Homo sapiens: one gene and its partners. The protein of the gene in region 7 purifies or fractionates together with the protein of the main gene of each other region. This does not show direct contact. Each region holds a gene or a part of one and is shown on either strand. Other genes may lie near its edges. The genes, in order: C2CD4B, FBXO45, CERK, SPRYD3, NAA15, NAA16 and ALPK2.

Region 1 (3,443 bases), on a different chromosome or scaffold from region 7:
GACTTAGGTTTATTTGTTGAATTAACAAATGAAAATCAATTGGATTTTTAAAAACACTCTCTAGAACCCAGTGTTCAAGAAACTGACTACTTACTTTTTAACTCATCTAGGAAATCCTACCGCAAAGCTAATTAGTGTGTAATTAGATACATAGCTAGGTGAGAAAATGCCACAAAAAGTATCATCTTGTTTACAGAGGCAAGAAAGATTTCTAAGATTTCCTAGGTAAGGAAGAGAGAGACCCCAGGAATAGCTATTCCCTAGATAACCCATCTATTGGAAGGTCCTCCACTTCCCTGTTTTCCTCACCAATTTTTGAAAAACTCACTTCCAAAAGAAAACTTTCTACAAAAAAATTTTCTTCCCACCAGGGTATATACATCCTTATAATACAAGTGTCTCACTCTGATGTGTGCGCGTGCGCAAACACAAATTAGGATATTACCTATGCCGCATCAATATGTAAAGCTGTGTATATGAATCGTAACGTTGGGCATGACTCTGAATGAATAACTTGCTTTATTAAAAAAAAACTGTAACATTGATAGAAAACCGGAAGGAATTAAAAACAATGCAGATGGGTGTACTTCCTTTCTCTCCCAGTCCCAAGCCAACCCATTTTTCCTTGGAATGCAAAAATGGTCTGGAAAGAGATATGGGGGTCCTGTGAACAGAACAGGGAGTCATTATCTTTTTCTTCTTTACCAATAGACGATGACAAATGTGGATGGTGAGGAAGTAAAACGTCAATAAAGCAGTATCATAAATAAAAAAATAAATAACGTTTATTCTGTACCACGCGGCTGTCAGTGTCCGGAGTCTCCAGGGCAGAGCGCCCCGGGGAGGGCTGGGCCCTCAGAGCAGCAGGAGGGCGCCCAGGGACAGCTCACCCTGGCCCAGCAGGCGGCCCCGATCCCGGCCGCGACCCTCATCCCGGGCCTTGACGCGAACGGCCAGGCGGCGCACCTCGTCTTCCGAGAGGCCGTCGAAGCAAAAGTCCTGGTCAAAGGAGGCCTTGCGGCTGCGCCCCACCACAGCGCTGCATTGCCAACGCGCAGTGCCCGGCGGCCGCAGGACGAGGCTGAGGCGGCAGCGGACGGCGCGGGGCCCGGGGGCGCCTCCGAACAGGCTCTCCGCGCGGAGCAGCCGGAGGCGGAGACGCCGGGTTCCCGGACAGTACTCAGCAGCCAGGCGCAGGGCGTCGCCGGCGCGGCCCAGAGCCACGGTGCCCTTGGCCTCCAGGCGCTCAGGAAGCGGGGCCCTGGATGACAGCGGGCTCGAGGAGGGGGCCCGGGCCGGGGACTCGGATCCCGCGCGGCGCTCCTCGTCCTCGTTCCCGCTGGAGACGGAGCGGACGCGGGCCAGGCGGCGACTCCTTCCAGCCCGCAGCGCGCGACTCAGCAGCCCGTCGGGGACGCGCAGGAGGCGGCAGCGGCGGGGCCCCGCAGCGAGCGCGTCCTGGGGCAGGCGGGGACCGCCGGGGGCCGCGGGGGTGGCCGGGCCCGGACCTCGCGGGCCGCACAGGGTCCCCAGGGGGGCGTCCGGGCCTCCGCCGCCGCCGCAGCTGTGGGCCCGGGGCCGGGGCGCGGGCGGGCCCCCGAGCAGGAGCGACTCCTTGCGGCGCGTGTGCGGGCTCTCGAGCAGCGCGCAGAAGCCGTAGGTGGTGCGCACACGGGGCAGGTGCGGCAGTGACAGCGCTGCCTGCGAGCGCGGGTCCCAGTCCGTGCGGCCGGCGTCCTCGTCTGCCGCGCGGGGCCACAGGTCGCTTTCAGCGGCGCAGCGCCGGGGCACGGCGGCGGCCCGGATTGGAGACTCGAGCGTGCAAGGGGCCGGCAGCCGCGGCGGGATGCAGAATTCGGGGATGCGATTCGGCGTGAGCACTTTGGCGAAGGCGGGCTTCGGCGCGGAGCTGCCTGCGGCCGAGGAACAGAGTTTCTCGAGGAGCCGCATCCTTGGAGGCTGGGGCTAGGAGTGGCGGGAAGAGGTGCGCCTGCGGGGGAGAGAAGCTGCTGAGTTTGGGCGCCTGGAGCTGCTGCAGCCCCTCGACGCGGCTGGATCCCTCCCCCAGACCCTGTAAACGTCCCCCACGTGTTTAAGACCCCAGACCAGTTCCAGCCTTCCTCTCCCCTGCACCCACAACAAATCAGCCCCGCTTCAGACCTTTCTCTCTTCTTCAGTGTCTCTGGATCTGGTTGCAAGCTCAGTGCCAGTGGCCTCTAGCCCGCTGCCGAGGCGCCACCTTCAGTACTGCGGCCAGGAGAGTGGCGCTCCCCTCTTATACCGTAGGCTGAGTCCCGCCCAGCCGCCAGCGGCCCAACCCGGAGGTGCTGCACAGCCCGCCTTCCCGCCACCCTCTCCCACGACGCCGGGAGGTCTGCATGCACTGGGCGCTCAGGTCTGCGCGAAGCTGTCGCGGGAGCAGGCACCTTGTGGTCAGCTCTGGGACCCGCATTTGCAGTGAGTGCGTGGAGCCCCAGGCAAGGCCTGGGAAAGGTTGCAGGTGAAGAGAGGGCACCCTGTCGTCCTGCCAAGGAAAAATTGGCGGCTGAAAATGTTTCTGGCTTCTTGGAGAAGGTGAGGCTGGACGAGGAAACAGGAAGTTAATTTGGCTAGGAGATAAACCGTCACTCACCCTGCATGTAACCTGGACGTGACCTGCACGTCCTGGGAGCTTCTGTTTTCCTGTCCCCACGCACTCGCAGCGTGCAGACCAATATGGTTTCCAGTTATTTATATACTTATTTACTGTCTGTCTCCCTCTGCTAGACTGTGCTCTTTTTGATAGCATAGGCCCTGGCTCAGTCCATGCCCTAAGTACTGGTGAAGTGGGTAAATTAATCGTTGAGAAAATTTCTGATCGCTTCTTGGTCTTTTGGCTAAGATCAAGTGGAGAAAGCCTCTGAATGGCTGCAGGCTCTGCCTGTCATCTTGATAGTTACAAAACATGGGGCTTCTGGCTCCTGCCCTAAAATAACACTTGACGTTTTTAAAACTACCCCTTTTTTTTTGCTCTAGCACGGAGGTATCCAGTTAGAAAGCACCTTCCCGAAATATAGATTCCTTCTTTCCACCCCCGACCTTCATTTTCTGAGATGTGAAGACTGAAATCCCAGAGGGACCTGAGGAAATTCCAGAAAGGTTAAAAAGAGCCAGTTAATGGCAGAAGCTGGAACTAGCAATTTCCTGTTTCTTTGGCTTTGCATGTGATGCTTCCTGTGATCTGAAATGCCTTTTCTCTGCTTTTTCTTTATATAGGAATTCCTGTTTATTTTCTGTAATTCAGCCCACGCATCGTCCCTTTCAGGTGCCTTCACCCACCCAGCCGCCGCGGAACTCCCCTGCTCCAGTTCCTCAGTCCCTCCTCATTTCCTTCCTACATCTAGGGGCCACCATTGTTGCGGTTCGCATGCTGCTTTGGAATTTTCGGTTTACAGTTTTGTCTC
Region 2 (3,500 bases), on a different chromosome or scaffold from region 7:
AGTGATGAGAAACAAGATTTGTAAGTCAAAATAGGAGTTAATGTTAAACTCTTCTACAACGAAACCTTCAAATATTGCCAACCTGAAGTTTTCAGCACAAGGTGTTGTATTTCAAGTCCCATGGGGGCAATTATCTATAATGAGATTAAGAATATTCTTAACCTGTTTCAGCTGGGTAAGTAAACGTTTTCTTTATAGCCCCAATAACGAGTTTGAGGCTTAGATTAGTTGCATGATGTAAACAATATGAAATTAAAATTTTTTTGATAATATCTACAGCATTTATAAGGTTACAAAATAAAAGGACCATTAATCAATTCTTTTTTTCCTAGGCTCTATGACTAATAGCTTTCATATTTGAGGCCTACAAGAGCAAATGGCAATGTTCTGTGTTATGAGACACTTTCTTAGAAGGCCAAAAATAAAACTGGATACCAAAAGATACACATTACTATTATGTTGAGATCATCCTTACTGATATATGTATAATTAGAAATAGATTTGCCTTCCTTCAATCTTTAGCCAGGAGACTGAGAGATCTTTACTATGATTTTGAGAGTAAAAACAAAAACAAACCAGACTCTAACAGCTATGGGAACTGTAAGCCAAAAATAATACAAAATGAGTCAATACAACACATCTCCTCTTAAAATCCTCTTCTTTGTAGTTAACCCAGTTGTCCCCAAATGTTATTCCAATTTTGTAACCATGTAGTGGTTTTTAAGAAATTAGAACTAGAACAAAACAACCTGTTTGTCCTTTCTTTTTTACAGTTTTTTTTTTTTACACACATATTATATACAACTTTTAAAATAGCTGCACAATTTTATATCTCACTTTTAGAGAAGTGCAGTCCAGGCAGACCATGCTTCTCAATATATTAAAAATATTAAATAAAACCCAACCAGTTTCATACTTTTCTAATAGTCAAGCTGGCTGGAAAAAAAAGGACTGGAGAAAGAACAGGCAGTTGTAAAATGGGATCAGTCTTCACAAACACACTACTTAAAAATCTTGCTATTTCCTTATCCCTTTGACAGCATCTCTACAATCTCACCTTTAAAGCTGGAAATAACACATTGCTAACTTAGAGACAACATCGGGTGCAACATGCATATGTCAACTGCCCACTCAACCAACTGCAACCCTGAGGATTTTTCTGGCCCAGTAGAAAGAGGAAACACGAAGATAATCTCTGCTGTAGAGCTGCTTCTCCAGTTTACGACTTCATGTGTTTTCAGGATGTTTCTTGGACATGCATGTGTGACAGTCACTTCATGGTTCTACTTCCCATAAGCAGATCTCTCCTCCATTCTGTCTGTCATCACAAGAAAGCCACTGTCATCCGTCCAAAGGTTTTCCAAGGTAAACCAAAGTCACTTCTGTGTTGCCATATACAGCAGAAACTGCTGGGTATAAGCAGACCTTTGGAAGTCCTCTAAAAGCAACCCCCAGGAACTCATATCCACGTTCAAAAGCTAAAGTCTTATCTTCCATGTCCAAGATGACTCGAATTCTTTCTCCTATCTGCAAACAGATATCAAAAGGTTAGAAGAAAATCTGCCAAGGGTGTAGCTAGAAGAAACAAGACACAAATCAAGAAGTTGAAAATATTAAGAATATTATCCTGAAAGCTATCTAGAAAAATCAGAAGGGAAGCTTTCTAGTCAGGAAGAAACATCTATAAAAAAAGGACATACATCTGGCCGGGCATAGTGGCTCATGCCTATAATCCCAGCACTTTGGGAGGCTGAGGCGGGCGGATTGCTTGAGCCCAGGAGTTCAAGACCAGCCTGGGCAACATGGTGAAAACCCATCTCTATTAAAAATACAAAAATTAGCTGGGTGTGGTGGCGCAAAGCTGGTATCGCACCACTGCCCACTGCACTCCAGCCTAGGTAACACATCACAAATGCTTACTTTGATAGTTTTGTTTTTAAGACTCACATGGAATCTACACTTAATTACTTACAATTTAAATGTTCCACCTGAACACTACCTAGATTGATTTTATTTACTCTTTGTTTAAAGGTTTTTCTTAAGGTTAACACTAAAATCTATAACTTGGCATATTTTACCAAAAAGAGCAATCTAAATCAGCTTCTCAAATTACTATACTATACATACAACGGAACTTTTTTTTTTTTTTTTTTTGAGACGGAGTCTTGCTCTGTCGCCCAGGCTGGAGTGCAGTGGTGCAATCTCAGCTCACTGCAAGCTCCGCCTCCCGGGTTCATGCCATTCTCCTGCCTCAGCCTCCCCAGTAGCTGGGACTACAGGTGCCCGCCACCACGCCCGGCTAATTTTTTGTATTTTTAGTAGAGACGGGTTTCACCGTGTTAGCCAGGATGGTCTCCATCTCCTGACCTCGTGATCCACCTGCCTCAGCCTCCCAAAGTGCTGGGATTACAGGCATGAGCCATCGCGCCCGGCCGTACAATGGAATATTATTCAGCCATAAACAGAAATGAAATTTTGATATATGCTACAACATAGATAGACCCTGAAAATATTATGCTAAGTGAAATGAGCCAGACACAAAAGGCTAAATGGTATGATTCCACCTATATAAAGTATCTAGAATACTCAAATATATATAGTTGTAGAGCAGAGTTTACCAGGGGTGGGGAGTGAAGGAAATAGGGAATGAACATAATAGAGATTATGTTGGGGTGAGGAAAAAGTTTTGGGTATAGAGAGAGGTGTGTGAATGTATTTAATGCCACTGAATTGTATACTTACAAATGGTTAAAATAATAAATATGTATGTTTCACCACAATTTTAAAAATCACCTTAGTAAGACACACAGCTTTTAAAGTTTACAAAGCAGTTCCACATGTAATGTGGAATCATGAATAATCCAATCTGGCTACAAATTCTAATGTAGAATATAGAATAGGCTTATTAAACAATTTGTGGTTCACAACTCTGAAACACCTGTTTGTTATAAAAAACAGCAGCACTGATTATTAAACGAAACTGGAAGCAGAATATATCCAGTTTTTTCCCATTTGGAAAAGTAAGCAAAAAAAAAAAAAGGATGTTTCATCTTTTTAGTTTGCCTTTATAAAAAGATGTTGCATCTACAAAATTGGAAACAGAAAGTCCTAATGTTTGCAATCAAAATTTAATTCTACCTGATTATAACCCCTACTATTGTCATTTACTTTCCTTCACTGTATTTCCTGTTAACAGTAACTGCCAACATCTGCTTTTTTCCTCCCTTTGCCCACCTCACAGATTAACCCACACCTCATTTTATGGATCTAAGAACCTCCAAATCATCATCACCACCACTCCTACCAACAAAATATTAACAAAGTAGAAATGAAAAGCTAATTTTGTTGGGTATTTGTGTTGTGTCGTATTTGTATTATCCCATTTAATCCTCACACTAATCCTAGGAACTATCCCTATTTTACAGAAGTTGAAACTAAGTAACGATTACTCCTGGTGAAATCTGCAAATCTGCTTCACCTTTGAGCACACAGCACGCACA
Region 3 (3,500 bases), on a different chromosome or scaffold from region 7:
CCGGAAGGCGTCTCCTGCCTCGGGGCTCTCATCCTGGTGGGAGGGACAGAGCTGCAGCCACTGCCTGTGGTGATGGGCTGAGGGCAAAGGGGGGGGCCAGGCATGCAGGGGGGCTGCCCACCACCCCACCCCAGCAGGCAGGGACAGGGAGGGGGCATCCCAGGGGCATTCTAGGCAGAGCCACACTGGGCTCAACAAAGGGCAGTCGGGAGAATGGCACAACCCAAACCGCTTCCTAAAATTCTCGCGGCTTCTCTAATTTTCTCGGTATTCCCTTTCTTAATAAGCCTTAGATAAATACCTCACTTTGCCATTTCTTAGGTTTTAATTTTCAAGCCACACTAGTTTTTAATTTCATTAAATCTTTTCAAGCTTCGTAAAGTTTGCCAAATCACTATTTCTTTCTCTCATAAGGGTTAAGATTTTAGTATCAGGAATTACTCGATTTAATTTGATACAGATTTATCTGAAAGCGAACTGTAAAGAGGCGGGAAAGTCGACCGGGCAGCGAGAATGGCACACCTCATGGTCTACATATTTTCTTCTTTCTTTCTTTTCTTTTTTTTTTGAGACAGGGTCTGGCTGTCGCTCCAGCTGCAGTGCAGTGGCCTGATCTCTGCTCACTGCAGCCTCCACCTTCTGTGCTCAAGGGCTCCTCCTGCCTCAGCATCCCGAGTAACTGGGGTGCCCGGCTAATTTTGTTTTTAATTTCTGTGGAGATGGGGTCTCCCTATGTCGCCCAGGCTGAAATTCTACTTTTCTTTTTTTTTGAGACAGAGGTCTCGCTCTGTTGCCCAGGCTGAAGTGCAGTGGCACGATCTCAGCTCACTGCAGCCTCTGCCTCCCGGGTTCAAGCAATTCTCCTGCCTCAGCCCCCCGAGGAGCTGTGACTATAGGTGTGCACCACCATGCCTGACTTATTTTGTATTTTTAGTAGAGACAGGGTTTCACCATGTTGGCGAGGCTGGTCTTGAACTCCTGACCTCAGGTGATCCACCTGCCTTGACCTCCCAAAGTGCTGGGATTACAGGCGTGAGCCACTGCCCCTGGCCAATTCTATGTATTTTTAAAGTTCTCCTTTTCCAGCGTTTAAAAGCTGGTGACGTCGCACCCACTGCCTGATGTGTGCAGACTGCAACTCTTGTGTCTGAACTGGCACCAGCCTTCATTTCTGGTTCATTCTAAACTCTGTGGTCGGGTAACAGGTCACCGCCGCCTGGCCCGAGGCCCCAGCAGCAGCCCCGGGAGCCTGGAGGACCTGCATGTTCCGAAGCCCACCCAGACCTGCCGTGTTGGATGCTCTGGGGGGTCCCCGCAGCCTGGGTTCTACCAAGCCCTCCAGAGGATGCAGGTGCCCACCACAGTCTGAGGACCACTGGGCTCAAGAAAGAGTGAGGCAGGATGCGGGCAACCTCTTTGTGCCTGTTTTCTCCGCTATAAAGTGGGGCAGGAGCACCTGCTGGGGTGAGAAGAGCACTGTGGAGAATGAAAGCTTTTGGGCTTCAGGGAGTGCGGCGTGGCATTCGCTCCCACTCCTCCTCCTCTGTGCCCACTGCGGCCGAGCCGCAGGAAGGCAGGATCTTGCCTGTTTTGTTCATGGACACGTCCCTGCCTCAAAAACCAGGCCCGGCATAGAGCAGGGGCTCAACAAATACGTGCTGAGTGTATCTCACTTGTATGGCTAGCTACGGTGTAACCCCAACAAAACCACGCAACCTTGTTGAATGAAGTAAAGGATACCTGTGCCTGAAGTTACAGAAGAGCTTCCACACAGATATCCCAGGCTGAATTTCTGCACAAAGTTCTTGCCACTTTGACTAATAAGCTCAGAGTGATTATAAAACTATTGTTTTACAGGCCAGGCATGGTTGCTCATGGTTGTAATCCCAGCACTTTGGGAGGCCGAGGTGGGCAGATTGCTTGAGCTCAGGAGTTTGAGACCAGCCTGGGCAACAGGGCAAAACCCTTTGTCTACAAAAATATACAAAAAAAAAAAAAATTAGCTGGTCACGGTGGCATGTGCCTGTAGTCCCAGCTACTCGGGAGGCTGAGGTGGGAGAATCACTTGAGCCTGGGAGGTCAAGGCTGCAGTGAACCGTGATCGTGCTACTGCACTCCAGCCTGAGTGACGGAGGAAGACTGTGTCTCAAAAAAATTTTTAAAAAATATATTTTAAAAACTATTTTTTTTCCAATTAATACTTCCACTTGAACAGTTTGGGGTGGCCTCTGTCACCTGCCTACCAGATGTGAGAGGCTGGTGGCCTGGCGTCTTGGGGTTCCAGCACCTGGGGTTCTGGAGTGAACTGCGTCCGTCATGGTGTCTACTCTGTGGCTTATGCTTGGGTCCAGGGGGCAGGATCTGGTTTAGAGCAATCCAGGTTCCAGTCCAGACCCTGCCACGTTCTGGCCCCGGCACATTTCATGAGGCCCTTAGCTTCCCGTCTGTGAGCAGGTGGGGGCCCACCTCTGACGGTGCTCAGTGGATTCAGTCAGGTAACATCTGTGAAGGCAGTCGGGGCACGACCAGCGGGGAGCGAGTCTGCATTATTCTGAGTTACCTGAAAAGTCGTATCTGGCAAGACCCAACCACCGTTTCTTCTCACTGTCCTTGATGATGTCCCCGTAGAAGCCGTAGCCCAGCAGGGACACGGAGTAGCGAAGGAGTGTGCTGTTGTGGTGGACTGAGGACACATCCATGGCCAGCGAGTCCCCTGTGGGAGAGAACGGCCGTGAGGGAAGGCAGCCCCCCTCCAGCCCCGCCCCATCCACTCCATCCCCTTCAATAGCACTTTGCAAACGTGGGAGTTACTTTTAAAAAGTGTGAAACAAACAGAACGCATTCAGTGCAAGGATTCTCTCTCTTGGGGTGTTGGATGCCATATTTTTTATTCAAATGACTGAACTCCACTCAAATTTCTAAAACAGGCTCGGGGAGCTATCCTGTGGGGACTGAACAAGAGTGTATCCGTGAGGCTCATGAAATATCTTTAACTGAAAGGACGGTGGTTTTAGAATGAAGAAAAAGTACATGGCATTTTAAAATACAAAATCAAGCCGAGTGCAGTGGTTCACGCCTGTAATCCCAGCACGTGGGGAGGCCGAGGCGGGCAGATCACCTGAGGTCAGGAATTTGAGACCAGGCTGGCCAGAATGGTGAAACCTTGTCTCTACTAAACATATAAAAATTAGCCAGGCATGGTGGCGTGTGCCTGAAATCCCAGCTAGTGGCGAGGCTCAGGCAGGAGAATCGCTTGAACCCGGGAGGCGGAGGTTGCAGTGAGCCGAGATCATACCACTGTACTCCAGCCTGGGCCACACACAGAGTGAGACTCTGTTTCAAAAAAAATAAAATAGGCCAGGTGCGGTGGCCCGCGCCTGTAAGTAACCCCAGCACTTTGGGAGGCTGAGGTGGGTGGATCACCTGAGGTCAGGAGTTCGAGACCAGCCTGGTCAACATGGTGAAACCCCGTCTCTACTAAAAATACAAAATGAGCTGGG
Region 4 (4,190 bases), on a different chromosome or scaffold from region 7:
GTGATCCCTTCCCCTACCCAGCTGGATCCCCTCCTTGCTGGATGAGGACAGAGCCACCCAGTGACAGAGGCAGAGGTGAGTGCAGGGTGAAGCAGCACACACTGCTCCACTCAGAAAGGCCTCTGGGCGGGTGGATCACTTGAAGTCAGGAGTTCAAGACCTGCCTGGCCAACATGGTGAAACCCTGTCTCTACCAAAAATATAAAAAATCAGCCGTATGTGGTGGTGCACGCCTGTAATCCCAGCTACTTGGGAAGCTGAGGCAGGAGAATCGCTTGAACCCAGGAGGCGGAGGTTGCAGTGAGCTGAGATCACGCCACTGCACTGTAGCCTGGGTGACAGAGCGAGACTCTGTCTTAAAAAAAAAAAAGAAAAAGAAAGGCCTCTGGAGTCAAGAGCATCGCCCTTCCCTGTGCAGTGCACAGTCCCCTTCTCTGAAAAAATAAAAGTTAAAAAAAAAAAACCCTTTCCTCTCTAAGATCTGGAACAGAGAAGAAAATGTGGAAGCATTCTCCTGAACTCACCTTAAAGTATCTCCATCTACAAGGATATGTTTGAACCTCTCCTGATATCGGAAAGCTCGGACCTCTCGAATCTCCCGGATCCGCCGGCGCCAATTCAGAAACCGGTAGTGCAGGTTGAGGTCATCCATCTTGTTCATGAGAACAAACCTGCCAAGGGGAGAAGGGGATTGAGGAGAAAGCAGGGCCCTAGGTAAAGCACCTCAGCCTCTGTGACCCAGAAGGTAGAGAAGGCACTGGCCTTGAGGCCAGCTGCCCAGATTGACCTCAACAACCCTCATCTTCTTTCTTCCATTCAACAAACATTTACCAAGCACCTACTCTGTGTGCTTTTCTCCGTGCTAGGGATGGAGCTGTGAACAAGATGGACAGGATTCCCATTCTCACAGGCTGGGAGGTGGACACGACAGGCAATAAACAGACATAATTTCAGGCAGTGGAGAAAAGAACAGGGTGATATGATAAAGAATCTGGAGGCAGTGGATAGAGTGGACAGAGGCGGTCTCTCTGAGGAGGTGACATTTGAGTTGAAAAGGAGCTAGGCATGACAAGCCAGGCATATTCCAGGCAGGAAGGGCAGCCACAGGTCCTTGGATGGAAGAGAGCTGGCATGGTAGAGAAACAGAAAAAGGCATGGACAGCTGGTATATAGGGAATGTGAGGGAGAATGTACAAGATGAGAATAAGGCAGGAGTCAGATCATGGCCCTACAGACAATGAAATGGTAAGGACTCTGGATTTTATTCCAAGATGGAAATTTCTGGAGGGTTGTAAGCAAGGAAATGCCATGATTGGCTGGGTATGATGGCTCATGCCTGCAATCCCAGCACCTTGGGAGGCTGAGGCAGGAGGATCGCTTGAGGCCAGGACCCAGACCAGCCTGGGCAACGTAGTGAGACCTCATCTCTACTAAAAATTAAAACAATGAGCCAGGTGTGGCAGCATGCACCTGTAGTCCCAGCTACTAAGGAGACTGAAGATGGCTTGAGTCTGGCAGGTCAAGGCTGCAGTCAGTTCTGATTGTGCCACTACATTCCAGCCTGGCTGACAGAGCAAGACCCTGTCTCAAAAAAAAAAGAAAAAAAAATGCCATGATCCTGGGCCTGGTGGCTCACGTCTGTGATCCCAGCACTTTGGGAGGCCGAAGTGGGAGGATCACAAGGTCAGAAGTTGAAGACCAGCCTGACCAACATGGTGAAACCCCATCTCTACTAAAAATACAAACAAATTAGCCAGGCGTGGTGGTGCGCACCTGTAATCCCAGCTACTCAGGAGGCTGAGGCAAGAGAATTGCTTGAACCTGGGAGGTGGAGTTTGCAGTGAGCCGAGATCGTCCCACTGCACTCCAGCCTGGGTGACAGAAACTCCATCTCAAAAAAAAAAAAAAAAGCCACGATCTTAATCAGTTCCTAAAGATCATTCCAGCTGCTGGTTGGAGAACTGATCACAAGAGGATCAAGAACAGATGTGGGCAAACAATTCAGACGTTGTTGCAGCAGTTCACATGAGAAATGACATCCACTAAGTCGGTAGCAGCGCCGATGGATGGGGGTGGGATGATCCAGGTATTTAAACAACCATCAGTCCCTACATATAAATGAATGAATGATTTTTCCTGGGAGCCAAAAGTGAGAAAGAGGTGAAGTACTCTTCTCTTCCCATTCCCTAAACACTGGGACAGGGGTTTTCTTGAGGCCTGACATTGCCTTGCACACGGTAGGTGCTTAGTAAGCCTTGGCTGGGCTGAATTTGATCCCAATACGCAAATTACGACTCTTATGCAGTAGCTACAACCCACCACGTGGCCCAGAAGAGTAGGCACCTGTGGGACAGACAGCCCTAAGATTCCACTCCCGGGCACTCAGCCAGGACTCAACCCCAGGTAGATGCTGGTTGCGCAGACCCCACAGTCTTGGCACCGGCGAGTGGCGGCCCTACTGGGCCCTGTCTCCTCCCCGGGCACGGCCTGATCACTGAGATGAGACCCGGGAGCAGCCGGGCCCCAGCCCATCCGTGTGCCTACGCCCAGTCTCCCCAGGCCCTGCACTGGGCCGAGGGTGCAGCAACAGAAGAAGCCCAGTGACCAGAGCGCAGGGCCCCGCCCCTGGCCCCAGAGCCCCCGCCCAGGACCCCCGCCTTCCGCTTCAGGCTCCGGGGAGATACGAGGCCTCCGGGACCCCGCCCCCGATCCCCGCCTACCGGGGCCGCCGCGTCCTCCTCATCCATAGGCCTCTCAGCTCCGCACACAAGCTCTTCGGCCGCCGCCACCACACACATCCGGGTCCCCGCCTTTCCTTCACTCCTAGAGGCCCGCCCCGTCCCCCATCTAAGCCAATCAGCAACGGCCTCTGACGACGGGCACCTGCAGGAGCCAATCGGAAGGCGCAGGCAGGGTGTGGGGCGCGGCCCGGTGCCCTGGGTACCCAGCTCAGGGCCCCGGTCTGGTCAACCCGGCTGTTGCTGGGGTGAGCGAAGGCGACGTGGCAGCGCGGACGCTGCTGGGTGCCTGGGCGCCGCTGAGGCGGACAGGGGGCGGCTCTTGAGCGGCGCCGGGGAGACGGGACGGGCGGAGAAGGTGGCCACGCTCGCACAAACGTTGCGAGTATTACTTGAGCCCTCCTTCCGCGCTGGACTGAAATAAAAGCTTTACCGGAATGTCCATTTAATCCACGGTGCAGCCTTATGAAATAAATCTTATCTCCTTTTTACGGATGGGCCGAAGGCTGGCCTCGATAGCCTGCGCGCTTAACTGTTATGCTGTGTACCCTCCCGAGCTCTGTTTCATGGCACCGCTCGCTCATTATTGGCAAGAACATTCCATTCCAGGAGGAGAGAACTGGGGATGCAGAAGGCACAGTGGCACGAAGCGGCATTCTGTGGAGGAACACAGGGCTTTGGTAGGCTGAAGGAAAGTTAGACTGGGGTTAGAATGTGAAGGGACGAAGACACGAATATTTATTGAACACCTACTAGGGAGTGCCTACCTGCCATTCTGGGGGGTTGGACTCCTAGATGAGGACTTCCTTGCTCCCTTCCCATCACCATATCTCTCTCTTCTGGACGGAAAAGATTCCTCTCCTCTGTAGCACCTCATTTATAATACTTTTTTTTTTGAGACGGAGTCTCACTCTGTCGCCCAGGCTGGAGTGCAGTGGCGCGATCTCGGCTCACTGCAAGCTCTGCCTCCTGGGTTCACGCCATTCTCCTGCCTCAGCCTCCCAAGTAGCTGGGACTACAGGCGCCCGCCACCACGCCAAGCTAATTTTTTTTGTATTTTTGGTAGAGACGGGGTTTCACCGTGTTAGCCAGGATGGTCTCGATCTCCTGACCTCTTGATCCGCCCACCTCGGCCTCCCAAAGTGTTGGGATTACAGGCGTGAGCCACCGCCCCCCGCCATTTATAACACTTATTACCGTCTTGCTTTCGTTATTGGAGTTACTTGTGTGTGTAGACCCGTCTCTGCTAGACTGTGAGCTCCTTCAGACCCCAGACTATTCTATTCTTATCACACTAGGTACTCTAACGTGTTGAGTGCCAGGAAAGCCATCAGCTCGCATACCGTGAATAGTGCCCACTCGGCATAACGGCAATGGGTGATAGGAATAGATGAGATGGGAAACAGAGAAACCCGGATTAGAGCCCCAATTCTGTGTGACTAAAAGGTCAAG
Region 5 (4,222 bases), on a different chromosome or scaffold from region 7:
AGTGCACTGTATTATTCCTTAAACTACGTGATTATTACAGTCTTCTCAAAATTAAAAGTTTGATTTATTTAAAAAGTGCTAACACTTGGCCGGGTGCGGTGGCTGACGCCTGTAATAGCAGCACTTCGGAAGGCCGAGGCGGGCGGATCACTAGGTCAGGAGATTGAGACCATCCTGGCTAACATGGTGAAACCCCGTCTCTACTAAAAAATACAAAAAATTAGCCAGGCGTGGTGGCGGGCACCTGTAGTCCCAGCTACTTGGGAGGCTAAGGCAGGAGAATGGCGTCAACCCAGGAGGCGGAGCTTGCAGTGAGCCGAGATCGCGCCACTGCATTCCAGCCTGGGCGACAGAGCGAGACTCCGTCTCAAACAAACAAACAAAAAAAAGTGCTAACACTTGAGAAAATCTCCATATGAACCAGATATTAGACAATATTAGAGAATGATTGTTATAAGTATACAAGACGATGTCCTTATTCTTAGGAGATGCTTGCTTAAGTATTTAGAGATGAAGTTTTTTGTTTTTGTTTTGAGACAGTCTTCCTCTGTTGCCAAGGCTGGAACTGCAACCTCCACCTCCCGGGTTCAAGCGATTCTTGTGCCTCAGCCACCCTAGTAGCTGGGACTACAGGCGAACACCACCATGCCTGACTAATTTTTGTATTTTCAGTAGAGACAGGATTTCACTACGTTGGCCAGCCTGGTCTCGAACTCCTGACCTCAAGTGATCCATCTGCCTCAGCCTCCCAAAGTGCTGGGATTACAGGCATGAGACACCGTGCCCAGCCTAGAGATAAATTTTACATCTACAACTTACTTTTATACAAATGTATATATACATATACATAGGGAGAGAGAAAGCATATATGGCAAATAAATATAAGTAAAGGTTTATGAGTGTTCCTTGTTCTCTCAACTTTTCAGTTTCATTTTTTTCAAAATAAAGAATTGTGAAAAAGAGATTAAAGATAAATTGCTATTCTAAACTTATGTTACAGTTCTACCTGCACACCAATTAGTCTTTTTAAGGGTTTAAAAGTAACTTTTTTCCTAAAACTATTTTACAGCTCCACCTACACTCTTAGTCTTAAAACAAAACAAAATTCCAGTAAGAATTTCAAGGTAACAGTTTTGCGACACTGCATGTGACTTTCTAATGTTTTTCAAAATGAATTCACTAAATCTGTAGGGCATATGGACACTTTTGTAAAATCAAAGTTAGTTCAAATGGATGATTATTCATTTCTAGAAAAACTGAATCCCCAGAGTTGTTCTACTTTTCAAACAGGTGAAATAAATTATAACTGCGGGGGAAAAGGCTAACACTTTCACACACACATCCCAAATTTTAAAAGTCTTAAATTTGGCAAATACAGTTAATTCTATCATAAGGAAACGTTTGCGTGAAAGGGGGAACCCACATACTAAATGCCAAACAAAAAATGTGCTACAATGTGTTAATTATAGCTCCAAGGCTACAGGACATATTTTACAATGTAAACAGTCCCTGCAAACATCAATGCATTTATGGTTTAAAAAAATACAAACTGCACACATTTGAACCGTAGGGAATAAGTCTGAGCTAGCGTCAACAAAATCCATCTCAAAAGTTCTTATATTCTCATTTCTCTGGTAAGTTTTTGCATGTGTTAATATACTTCAGTGTATAAGAAAAGTCTAGGTCTGCAACGTTTCAACTAAAGACTCAACTTTTTACTTCCTACCGAACCGCCCCCTCGCAATGGGCCCCACCTCCCGAGAAGAGTGACGGGGTGGGGCTGTTTCCCGCTCGGAAACTAAGAAATAAATGCCTCATCCCTACTCCAGAAACGAGAACAACGGAGGCAGAGGAGCTGAAGACTCCAGTATGCAACTGACTACAAGGAGGTAGTCGTTTGAAAAGCTTTCTTTCCTTCTCTGAACTCCTTCTTTCCCTCCTCTCAGGTCATTGGGTGACCCCGGGCCGGGCGGAGACAGGTGAATCCCAAGAGAGGAGGAAGAGGGAGGGACAGATGATGGAGGGAGAACCGCGTTTAGGCAATGAATGAGCCTGCTGCATCCGCACCACCTGTTCCTTCCAAGGGTGCCACCCCGACCTGCCAGCAGGGTTCCCACACCAACCGGGCCGCGACTCCTGCCGGTGTCGCCCACTTGCCCGCCAAAGGCCGGGCCTCTTCTCCCCCAGATCGGGGAGAATGAGAACCGGCAGTCTAGAAGCCGGGAGGTCGGGGCCTAGTCCGGAACCAGGGCCTCAAGCGTGGGGATGGAATGAAGAAGCCTGTGGTCCCTGGCGCGCGGGCCATAGTAGGAACCACAGAGAGGGAGCAAAGCAATGCATTCGGCCTGACGAGAGCTATGAAGGCGGGGTCCCGGGCGGGAGTGGCTCAGTGCCCGCCGGGCCGAGGTTAGGGGTGACAGGCCCGGTTACCGGCTAAATCCTCCCCACCGCTTGCCCGGAGCCTCACACTTACCAAGATCCGCTTGAAGAGCGCATTCTCCTTGGGCGGGAGGCTCACGGCCGGCATCGTTCCGGCTGCTCCCGCTGCTCCCGCCACCACCCGGCTCGGTCAGTCAGTTTGTCCGACCGCCGCCGCTGCCGTTCCGTAGCTGCTTCAGCCTTGAATATCTCGATCCGCCGCCACCACCAGGCCTCGGGTGTCGCCGCGTTGCCCTACCCGGACACCTCCTTTTTCCTCGTTGTCTTTTTTCCTTTCTCACTTAACGCTGCCGCCGCCTCCCCCACTACGGGTCTCCGTCGGCGGTTCACGTGGTAACTGAACAGACCGACAGAGGCAGCCAAAATGGCGGACGCGGAGGGTTTTCCCACCCGGGTCACGCTTCCTAACACGCAGGCGCGGTGACCTCCTTTCCCCACCTCCTCTGGGTTTCGGAGCTTGCCGGGAAACCTGGAGGCTGGCCTGCCTGTGGAGGCCGGGAGGGTCGGGGCAGGCCCCGCCCATCATTTCAGTGCGTGGTACCCTCGAAGCGCCCGCGGAGCTACGGGAGGCTAGGCAAGTACGGTTCAGACCGCCTCCTCATCAAAAACAGCCTCTCTGGCGCCTTCCTGCTAGATCGACCTTTCATTCCTTGGAAAGAGTCTCGCACACTGTGTGATCATCGTTTGAGCCCAAAGTGCTAAAATACAGGTGTAGGTGTTTGAGAAGCGCTGTAGTTGATTATGGACGAAATGCCTAATTTAAGGAGCAGAGGCGGAGTGGAAAATGAAAAAAGCTTCACCGCAGTGGAGACTTGTTAACAGCCCTGGGGAGAAAGGGGCTTAACAGAGTCTGGAAATCGTGAAAGAGCTTGACCGATGAAATGGGCCTGGCTGTCGTATCGGTAATTTGGTGAATGTTGCTTAAGATCAGCCTGGAAAGGTAGTTAGTCAGATCCGAAGTGACATATTTGCACTGCCAAAGGAGGCTCTGGAGGTTAAAGTATGTGTTTTAATTTCGTTGTTGAGGCCATATAATGCAGAGTTGACGGACCGACCTTATGAGTCACCTTGGAGCGGAGTAGTGGAGACTTAAAGACAGACTACCCTGGAGCTGGCTTCAAACTAGTTCTTAATATTGTGACTCGAACTCCCCATCCCCAGAAATTCTCAGATCTTAGAAGCCAAAGACTGGCAAGGATACTAGAGGGAACTACTCGAGTAGGCGAGGTCAGACTACATACCGAATAGGAGTCCTTCCAAAAATGTAAGTCATTTCATTAACAGCTGACCGTAAAACTTTTTCAAAGTGGCATTCCATTGATCTAAAAATTTTCAAGTTATATGAGCCACTTTTAACCTTTGGTTTTTGATTACCTCTTTCCAAATCCTGATTTCACTCTGTAGCATTCTTTGCATCATGAATTATTAAACAATATGTGCGTGTTTTTTACTGTTTTAAATTTATTTGCAAAGATATTTTAATTTTCAAACTTCTCTTAACTGTCCCTGAAAGGTGTGAGTTGAGATACATGTTTCCCAATATAAACTTGGGTTTTGTAGCTGCTATATTGATTGTCCTCGCCCTTCACCGGGGTCATAAATAAGGTTTTTAACAGTCAAATCCTGGAGTTTCCTTAAATTCTGTGATCTCTCTTCAAAAGTTTGAGAAAAATCATATATACAGGAAACTATGTTTCAGTTTGAAATATGGCCAGTATTTTAACCTTAACTTTATAAAACTAAGAACAAGCTTATAATTCATTTTTAAGCTGTTACTTAGTAA
Region 6 (3,500 bases), on a different chromosome or scaffold from region 7:
GTGTTGGAGCGGGGTTTGGGCCACAGGATCACCATGTTCTGAATACCATAGAGTTTGAAAATCATTCTTCTTGTGTAATTCCCTTCTTGTGGATAATTCAGAGAATTATTTCATCCTAAACCATCTTTTATTAACTTCCTTACATGTTTTTTGTTGCCACTACCATCATCCAGTGTTGTGCTGTTGAAATGTGAACTGATGTTAATTAGCCTAAGTATAATTTGTTGGAATAAACTTGCTATCAAAAATGAAGTCTGTTCCAATATTGAATAAAGTGATTAGTGATTTTTAAATTATGTATTTGTCTTTATTAAGGTAGATTGAGTGTTTTTGTGTGGTTGTAAATCAGATTGATGATTGATTAGAATTGACCTTAGGTAAGAGCTGTGGAACTGCTATGGTAGATTTAATTCCATTAAGACTCATGTCTGCTTTGTAATTTTTTTTTTTTTTTTTAAGACAGAGTCTCGCTCTTGTTGCCCAGGCTGGAGTACAGTGGCACAATCTTGGCTCACTGCAACCTCTGCCTCCTGGGTTCAAGCAGTGCTCCTGCCTCAGCCTTCCAAGTAGCTGGGATTACAGGCACATGCCACCATGCCTAGCTAATTTTTGTTTAGTAGAGACGGGGTTTTGCTGTGTTGGCCAGGCTGGTCTCGAACTCTTGACCTCAGATGATCCACCCGCCTCAGCCTCCCTGAGTGCTGGGATTACAGGCGTGAGCCATTGCACCTGGCCTGCTTTGTTAATTTTTTCAGCAGAATAATATCAACCACTTTTACAGAGTCTTGTGAAGGGCAGAAACCATTTTAGCAACTCTGAAACTAAGGAATTTCAGAAAAGGACTTGGGCTGCTAAGCTTTAAGTAAATATTTAAATGTAGTTTTACTTTTTCTACTTGGAGAGAAGTTCAAACTGTGAGATTAAAAAGATGAATTGGAGCCATAGTAATCCTTCAGATCTCAACTATTAAAGTACTATTAAGAGAATAAGAGAATAATTTTGTGTCATTTGTAAATAGAGTTTAAAAATTATTTTTCAGAGACTTTGGCTATGAAAGGATTAACACTGAACTGTTTAGGAAAAAAAGAAGAAGCTTATGAGTTTGTTCGTAAAGGACTTCGTAATGATGTCAAGAGTCATGTCTGTATCCTTTTGCAGTAGTTAAATAGTTTATGTTTTAGCTAGTTTTTTCCTAATTCAAATTAAATTTGTACTATGAAAATTCCAAACCTACGTAGAAGAGAGAATTTAATGAACTCTGTGTATCCATTACTCAACTATAATCATTATCAACATTTTGTAATACTAGTTTCTTTTTTGCTTGTGCCCCTCCTCCTATATTAGTTTCATTTGTTCCCTACCCCGTGTTTATTTATTGGAATATTTTAAAGGAAATCTCTATAAAATGTGCTTACTTCTGTTGTGCTTAGTGTTGGAGAAAAGTTACTTTGGTAATTGTGACTTGAAACCCATTTTTTTCTTAAACATAATTAACTGGGTAATACTTTCCTGTTATTCCAAATACTGACTTTTAGTTAATCATATGTTAAAATTTGTGTGTCTTAAACTTTCTTTTAGACATTTGAGAAGAAAAACTTAAACTTATTTTAAAACAGATTTTACTTAATATATAAGTATGATATTGGTTCTTGAGCTTGGTTTCTGTTAACACAGAGACATAGCTGTTACTTAATTTGATCTTTATAATTGTGTTTTTCTTTGGGTAATATCCCAGTGTGTAAAAAAAAATTTTTTTTTGTTTTTTGGGGGGAGGGAGTCTCACTCTGTCACCCAGGCTAGAGTGCAGTGGCATGATCTAGGCTTACTGCAACCTCCACCTCTTGGGTTTAAGCGATTCTCCCACCTCAGCCTCCCAGGTAGCTGGGACTACAGGTGTGTGCCACCATGCCTGGCTACTTTTTGTACTTTCAGTAGAGATGGAGTTTCGCCATGTTGGTCAGGCTGATCTCGAACTCCTGACCTCAGGTGATCCACCCTCCTCGGCCTCCCAAAGTGCTGGGATTACAGGTGTGAGCCACCATGCCTGGCCAAAAAAAAATTTTTTTTTAAAGGGTGGAGCATTGAAATTGATTTTCATTTTTTTTTTTTTGCTTATCTGTATGTTTATCTGCATTTTTTTTCACATATTGCCCTTGCATTTTAGTTTGTTAACATGTAATTCACTTAGCCACGTACTGGTATTGAACACGAATAATCTTAGTAGTGTTTTCACATATTTAGCTTAGAGTTTTCTCAAATTACTAAATACTTATTTCTTTATCCCAGTGCTTACCCCAGAGTGAAGAGAAGGGCATGTAAGTATGATAGTTTTGTGGGGCTTTTGGCTCCAAGATATGCTAATACTTTAATTTATAAGAAATACAACTTATTTTTTGTGGCCTTTAATATAACTAGGGAAGTAGGTGATAGTTACACATTACTTTAGAATTGGTTGACTAAATTTGTTTCAAAAAGTAGTTGCAGTTTTTGTATATATTCTGTTTCAAGACATCATGATGAAGAATAGGTGAATGTTGAAGTTGCTGGGGTAGGAAAGTGATGGGATAGAGGGTAGAAAATGTGAAGAATTTTTGCTAAGAATTCTTTAAGGTTACTTAAAATATTACAGAAAATTTCAAACATGTACACAAGTAGAGAGAACAGAATAATGACCCCTTTCCCATGTGGCCATTACCCAGGTTCAGCAATTTGACAATTATCAACCCAGCCTGCTCTGGTTTCGTCTTTAACTTCCCCTCACCATTCCCCTCCCCCAGACTCCAGATCATTCTGAACAAATCCCAGGCAAAATACCATTTCCTTAATGTAACTTTTATATTAGATATGTATCATAGAATATTCTAGTGTCTGTGTATGTCTTTGTTTCCTTAACTTAATAGGTTGGCATGTATATGGACTCTTGCAGCGTTCTGATAAAAAATATGATGAAGCTATAAAATGTTACCGAAATGCCCTCAAATTAGATAAAGATAACCTGCAAATTTTGAGGGATCTCTCACTGTTGCAGATCCAAATGAGAGACCTTGAAGGTTACCGAGTAAGTACTTCATTCTTAAATGTACATGATTTTACAGTAGACAAAATTTAAGAGCGTGTCATTTCAGAATGAGGTGAGCATAAGCCAAAATCAAGTAGATTTGATTGTTCATTAGAAGGTGTATGTCGCTTGGGACCTTCCTTCTCAGTCATAGTTGTGGCACTTTGTACTTGAGTATTCAAAAAGAATAACTGGTGGGGTGTGGTGGCCCACGCCTGTAATCCCAGCAGTTTGGGAGGTTGAGATGGGAGGATCGCTTGAGGCTGGGAGTTAGAAACCAGCCTGGGCAACATAGGCCAGACTCCGTCTCTACAAATAAGAAAATTAGCCCGGTATGGTAGTTTACACCTGCAGTCCCAGCTATCCAGGATGTTGAGGCAGGAGGATCCCTTGAACCTAAGAGTTGAGGCTGCAGTGAGCCATGATTATGCTACTGCACTCC
Region 7 (3,500 bases):
TAAACATACAAAGTGTGACAGTGCTGTAATCGGACCCACTTCCTTGAGTTAACTGATTAAAATCACTTTGGTTTGAAGTTGAATGTCATGGGCCGACTGCTCTGTCCAGTCTAGGAATGTGTCGTCAATGTCATCACAAACATTTCACAGTAAAGAAAGCCCCTCTCTGGCTCGTTTTCCTCTTATCCTCCACATTTGCCCAGGCTCCTTATGTTCCCACCCTCACTCCCCTGTAATGAAAACTCCAAAGCCGCTCCAACTAATCCCTCTTGGGAGAATGTTTACTTTCAATGTGACCAAGAGGTGAAATGCTGTGGAATTTCTGGCATCAGACAATATAGGGGAGAACCTGGAAAATCTTAGGCTATCTTCTGTCTCACTCCCCGCCCCCCGACAGAAATAAGACCAACCCTGAGTGTAGTTAACTGAGCCCGAGTGTAGTTAACTGAGCTAGAACTTATTATGCTGAACTAACCACCTGTCAGCAAGTCCAGTCAGAAAAAAGCAGTGGTGTGAGGACAGGGAAGTTTCGCAGGAGAGTGGTAGTCTGATCTCTGCCACCTTCTACCCTCATCCTTCAACCCAGCCAGTCAGAGTGTCTTAGGGGAACACTTTTCATATAATGCCTCCACTTGCCTTATTTCCAGAAGATTTTTTTTTAATAGAGATGGGGTCCCACTATGTTGCCCAGGCTGTTCTCATACTCCTGGGCTCAAGCAATCCCCCCACCCACCTCAGACTCCCAATACAGAAGATTTTTAATGGTTCTTTATCTAATCTTGTTCTAGTAAATAAAGTGTGCCTTAGAGATAAGGAACATCACATCCAATAAAAAGGGCCGTAGGGTGCAGTACTGCAGCCAACGGTTCATTCCATTTCTTTTTATTTCTTTTGAGATAGGGTCTCCCTCTTTCACCCCGCTGGAGTGCATTGGTACAATCTCGGCTCACTGCAACCCCTGCCTCCTGGGCTCAAGCAATCCTCCCTCCTCAGCCTCCTGAGTAGCTGGAATTACAGGCATGCACCACCATGCCTAGCTAATTTTTGTATTTTTAGTAGAGACAGAGTTTTGCCATGTTGGCCAGGCTGGTCTCAAACTCCTGACCTCAAGTGATCCTCCCATCTCGGCCTCCCAAAATTCTGGGATTACAGGCGGCTCACGCCACCGTGCCTGGCTGGTTCATTCCATTTCTGAGGCAGGACTGTTCTGTGGAAGAACATTTTAACTTGTCTGGGCTGAACTTTAAAGCATGCCCATCCTAATTTTTTTTTAAATTTTTTCTGGCTTACCTTTAGCAGTAATATCCTAAATCTTTAAAGTATAAATGCTCCCCATGGCTAACTTTATAACTAAGGGAAGAAGTGGTAAGATTTCAGAGACCTTTCTCCAAAATATCTAAAATCTCCTAAAGTGGCCATTCGCTTGTCCTCCTAATCAAGCCTCTTCCATCACTCAGCAGCCTGGGGACTCGGCTGGCGATTCCTCACCCTTCCTGCTTTGTTGGCTCTGATTGGTCTAAACTGTGGTGCTCTTGGTCACTGATTGAGTCATTAACCAAAGTTTAAGCCAATCACATGTGGCACTCTCCAAAAAGTAGTTCAGGGGTGACCAAGTCAGTGCAAAGCTTAGGTTGTTCACTCCGTCATCCACAGAAAAAGGAAAGCATGTGAACCTCAGCGAAGGCCAATAGCTATCTTGAGACCGTGCTAAAGCTGGCCTGATAAAACCAAAACAGAGATGAGCAGAGCTTCCAGAAATGCAGGAAACAGCAGGGTCCTGACCAAAGTCCTGGACTCTTCCATGGTATGAGCAATAAATCCCTGTTACTGATTTAGGTAGTTTGAGTTGATTTCTTTCTTTTTTTTTTTTTTTTCTTTTTGAGACAGAGTTTCACTCTTGTTGCCCAGGCTGGAGTGCAATGGCACGATTTCGGGTCACTGCAACCTCTGCCTCCCGGGTTCAAGCGATTCTCCTGCCTCAGCCTCTCAAGTGGCTGGGATTACAGGCGTGTGCCAGCATGCCCAGCTAATTTTGTATTTTCAGTAGAGGCAGGGTTTCACCATGTTGGCCAAGCTGGTCTCAAAGTCCCGACCTCAAGTGATCCACCCACCTTGGCCTCCCAAAATGCTGGAATTAACAGGCATGAGCCACCAAGCCCAGCCAAGTTGATTTCTTTGTTGCTTCTAGAAGGCATACCCTCTCCTCATTGGCCCACAGTGCCTGAAATTCCTATCATTTGGCTCTCCATTCCAGATCTCTATGTTGGACATCAAGTTACAATCAAGTTACCGACAGAAGTAATGGATTGAAGATTAAATGATTTAATCAAAACCATCTAACTCTTGACAATTCTTTCATCATCAAGAAGGCGGGGGAGGAGAAGTGTGAAAAGCGTAGCCCAACCACACTAATTTCTGATTTCCATATTCATTCTTTCTCTTTCTGCCCTCCATGTTTTTAGTTTGCTTTTCTGGATTTCCTTTACATAGAAGGACCACTTTCCATCTCAATCTGTTCAGAAACCCCGCCAGGTTTTCAAACCCCTAGCTCAAATGCTGGTTTCTCTTTGAAGGCTTCCCTGATACCCTCAGCTGAAAAAAAAAAAAAGCCCCCTAAAAACTAGAGACCATTAGCCTCAGCATATTGTCCCCACACTCAGTGTCACCCCCAGCAGCTAGACTGTAAACTGCTTGCCTGCAGGGCACCTGATGGGTTAACCTTTTATGTTTACAGCACTGGCACACTGTATCTGTGTCTCTGGCACCCCCTGAGAAGTAAGGAAAGTTTGGTGGTTGAAAAGAATAAGCACAAATAGGTTTTCTTCAGGAACTGCAGGCCGAAGAAATGGCTACAGCAGTGGTTCTCAGAGTGGCCCCTGGGCCACGCCATCAGCATCACCTGGGAACAAGGAAGAAATGCAAATTCTTGGAAACTTCAGAATCAGAAACTCTGGGGATGGAGCCCAGGAACCTTTATTTTAACAAGCTCTTTAGATTCTGTTGCACTTGAAAGTTTAAGAACCGCTGGACTCAGGAAGGTCTTAAACTAGGGGTTGAGGAGCAAATGAGCGTGTTTAAGAGCAGGGGCCTGGTTATCTAAGAGCAGGATTGAAAATCAAGTGAAAATCAAGGTGGGCTGTGCAGCCAGGACATGAGGATTGCAGTGGAAGGGCTGGCCCTTGAGAGGGAGGGTGCAGTGTAACCAGAACTGAACTCTCGGAATTGAGCTTCTCTTCAACTTGCTGCCTGTCTCTTCGAGCTGATGTCTGAAGTCTCCTGATCAGTTTTGTCTATTTGGCCCATGCCAGGTGGGTGTGCATAGGCGGAAATCCCAATAAGGGCTTGAAACATGTTTAAATGTTTTATTTGATGTAGGTCAGGTGTTTATTCTTTCGTTTTCGCCAACCCTAAGATGACGTGATTACGTTCTCCCAAGTTGCTTTACATGTTTGCATTTTCAGTTTTTCTTTTTGGCAGCATTCAACCCAGAGTAACGTATC

The links.
Region 1: the proteins of ALPK2 (region 7) and C2CD4B purify together in Homo sapiens (affinity purification with mass spectrometry; one large-scale study listed by BioGRID and IntAct). This does not show direct contact.
Region 2: the proteins of ALPK2 (region 7) and FBXO45 purify together in Homo sapiens (affinity purification with mass spectrometry; one large-scale study listed by BioGRID and IntAct). This does not show direct contact.
Region 3: the proteins of ALPK2 (region 7) and CERK purify together in Homo sapiens (affinity purification with mass spectrometry; one large-scale study listed by BioGRID and IntAct). This does not show direct contact.
Region 4: the proteins of ALPK2 (region 7) and SPRYD3 purify together in Homo sapiens (affinity purification with mass spectrometry; one large-scale study listed by BioGRID and IntAct). This does not show direct contact.
Region 5: the proteins of ALPK2 (region 7) and NAA15 purify together in Homo sapiens (affinity purification with mass spectrometry; one large-scale study listed by BioGRID and IntAct). This does not show direct contact.
Region 6: the proteins of ALPK2 (region 7) and NAA16 purify together in Homo sapiens (affinity purification with mass spectrometry; one large-scale study listed by BioGRID and IntAct). This does not show direct contact.

Annotation. Positions count from the first base shown.
Region 1 is NC_000015.10:62,163,035-62,166,477, forward strand, and holds C2CD4B (C2 calcium-dependent domain-containing protein 4B), read right to left. Parts: upstream 2,252-3,443; 5' UTR 2,161-2,251; intron 1,991-2,160; 5' UTR 1,951-1,990; coding exon 856-1,950; 3' UTR 501-855; downstream 1-500.
Region 2 is NC_000003.12:196,582,160-196,585,659, reverse strand, and holds part of FBXO45 (F-box/SPRY domain-containing protein 1), read right to left. Parts: intron 1,528-3,500; coding exon 1,342-1,527; 3' UTR 1-1,341. UniProt on the Homo sapiens protein: Component of E3 ubiquitin ligase complex consisting of FBXO45, MYCBP2 and SKP1. Functions in substrate recognition but also plays an important role in assembly of the complex.
Region 3 is NC_000022.11:46,696,753-46,700,252, forward strand, and holds part of CERK (ceramide kinase), read right to left. Parts: intron 2,714-3,500; coding exon 2,561-2,713; intron 1-2,560. UniProt on the Homo sapiens protein: Catalyzes specifically the phosphorylation of ceramide to form ceramide 1-phosphate.
Region 4 is NC_000012.12:53,076,591-53,080,780, forward strand, and holds the start of SPRYD3 (SPRY domain-containing protein 3), read right to left. Parts: upstream 2,801-4,190; 5' UTR 2,744-2,800; coding exon 2,721-2,743; intron 672-2,720; coding exon 525-671; intron 1-524.
Region 5 is NC_000004.12:139,300,083-139,304,304, reverse strand, and holds the start of NAA15 (N-alpha-acetyltransferase 15, NatA auxiliary subunit), read right to left. Parts: upstream 2,801-4,222; 5' UTR 2,528-2,800; coding exon 2,474-2,527; intron 1,890-2,473; exon of another isoform or gene 1,754-1,889; intron 1-1,753. UniProt on the Homo sapiens protein: Auxillary subunit of N-terminal acetyltransferase complexes which display alpha (N-terminal) acetyltransferase (NAT) activity. The NAT activity may be important for vascular, hematopoietic and neuronal growth and development.
Region 6 is NC_000013.11:41,317,767-41,321,266, forward strand, and holds part of NAA16 (N-alpha-acetyltransferase 16, NatA auxiliary subunit), read left to right. Parts: intron 1-1,039; coding exon 1,040-1,144; intron 1,145-2,086; exon of another isoform or gene 2,087-2,315; intron 2,316-2,900; coding exon 2,901-3,058; intron 3,059-3,500. UniProt on the Homo sapiens protein: Auxillary subunit of the N-terminal acetyltransferase A (NatA) complex which displays alpha (N-terminal) acetyltransferase activity.
Region 7 is NC_000018.10:58,622,592-58,626,091, forward strand, and holds part of ALPK2 (alpha-protein kinase 2), read right to left. Parts: intron 1-3,500.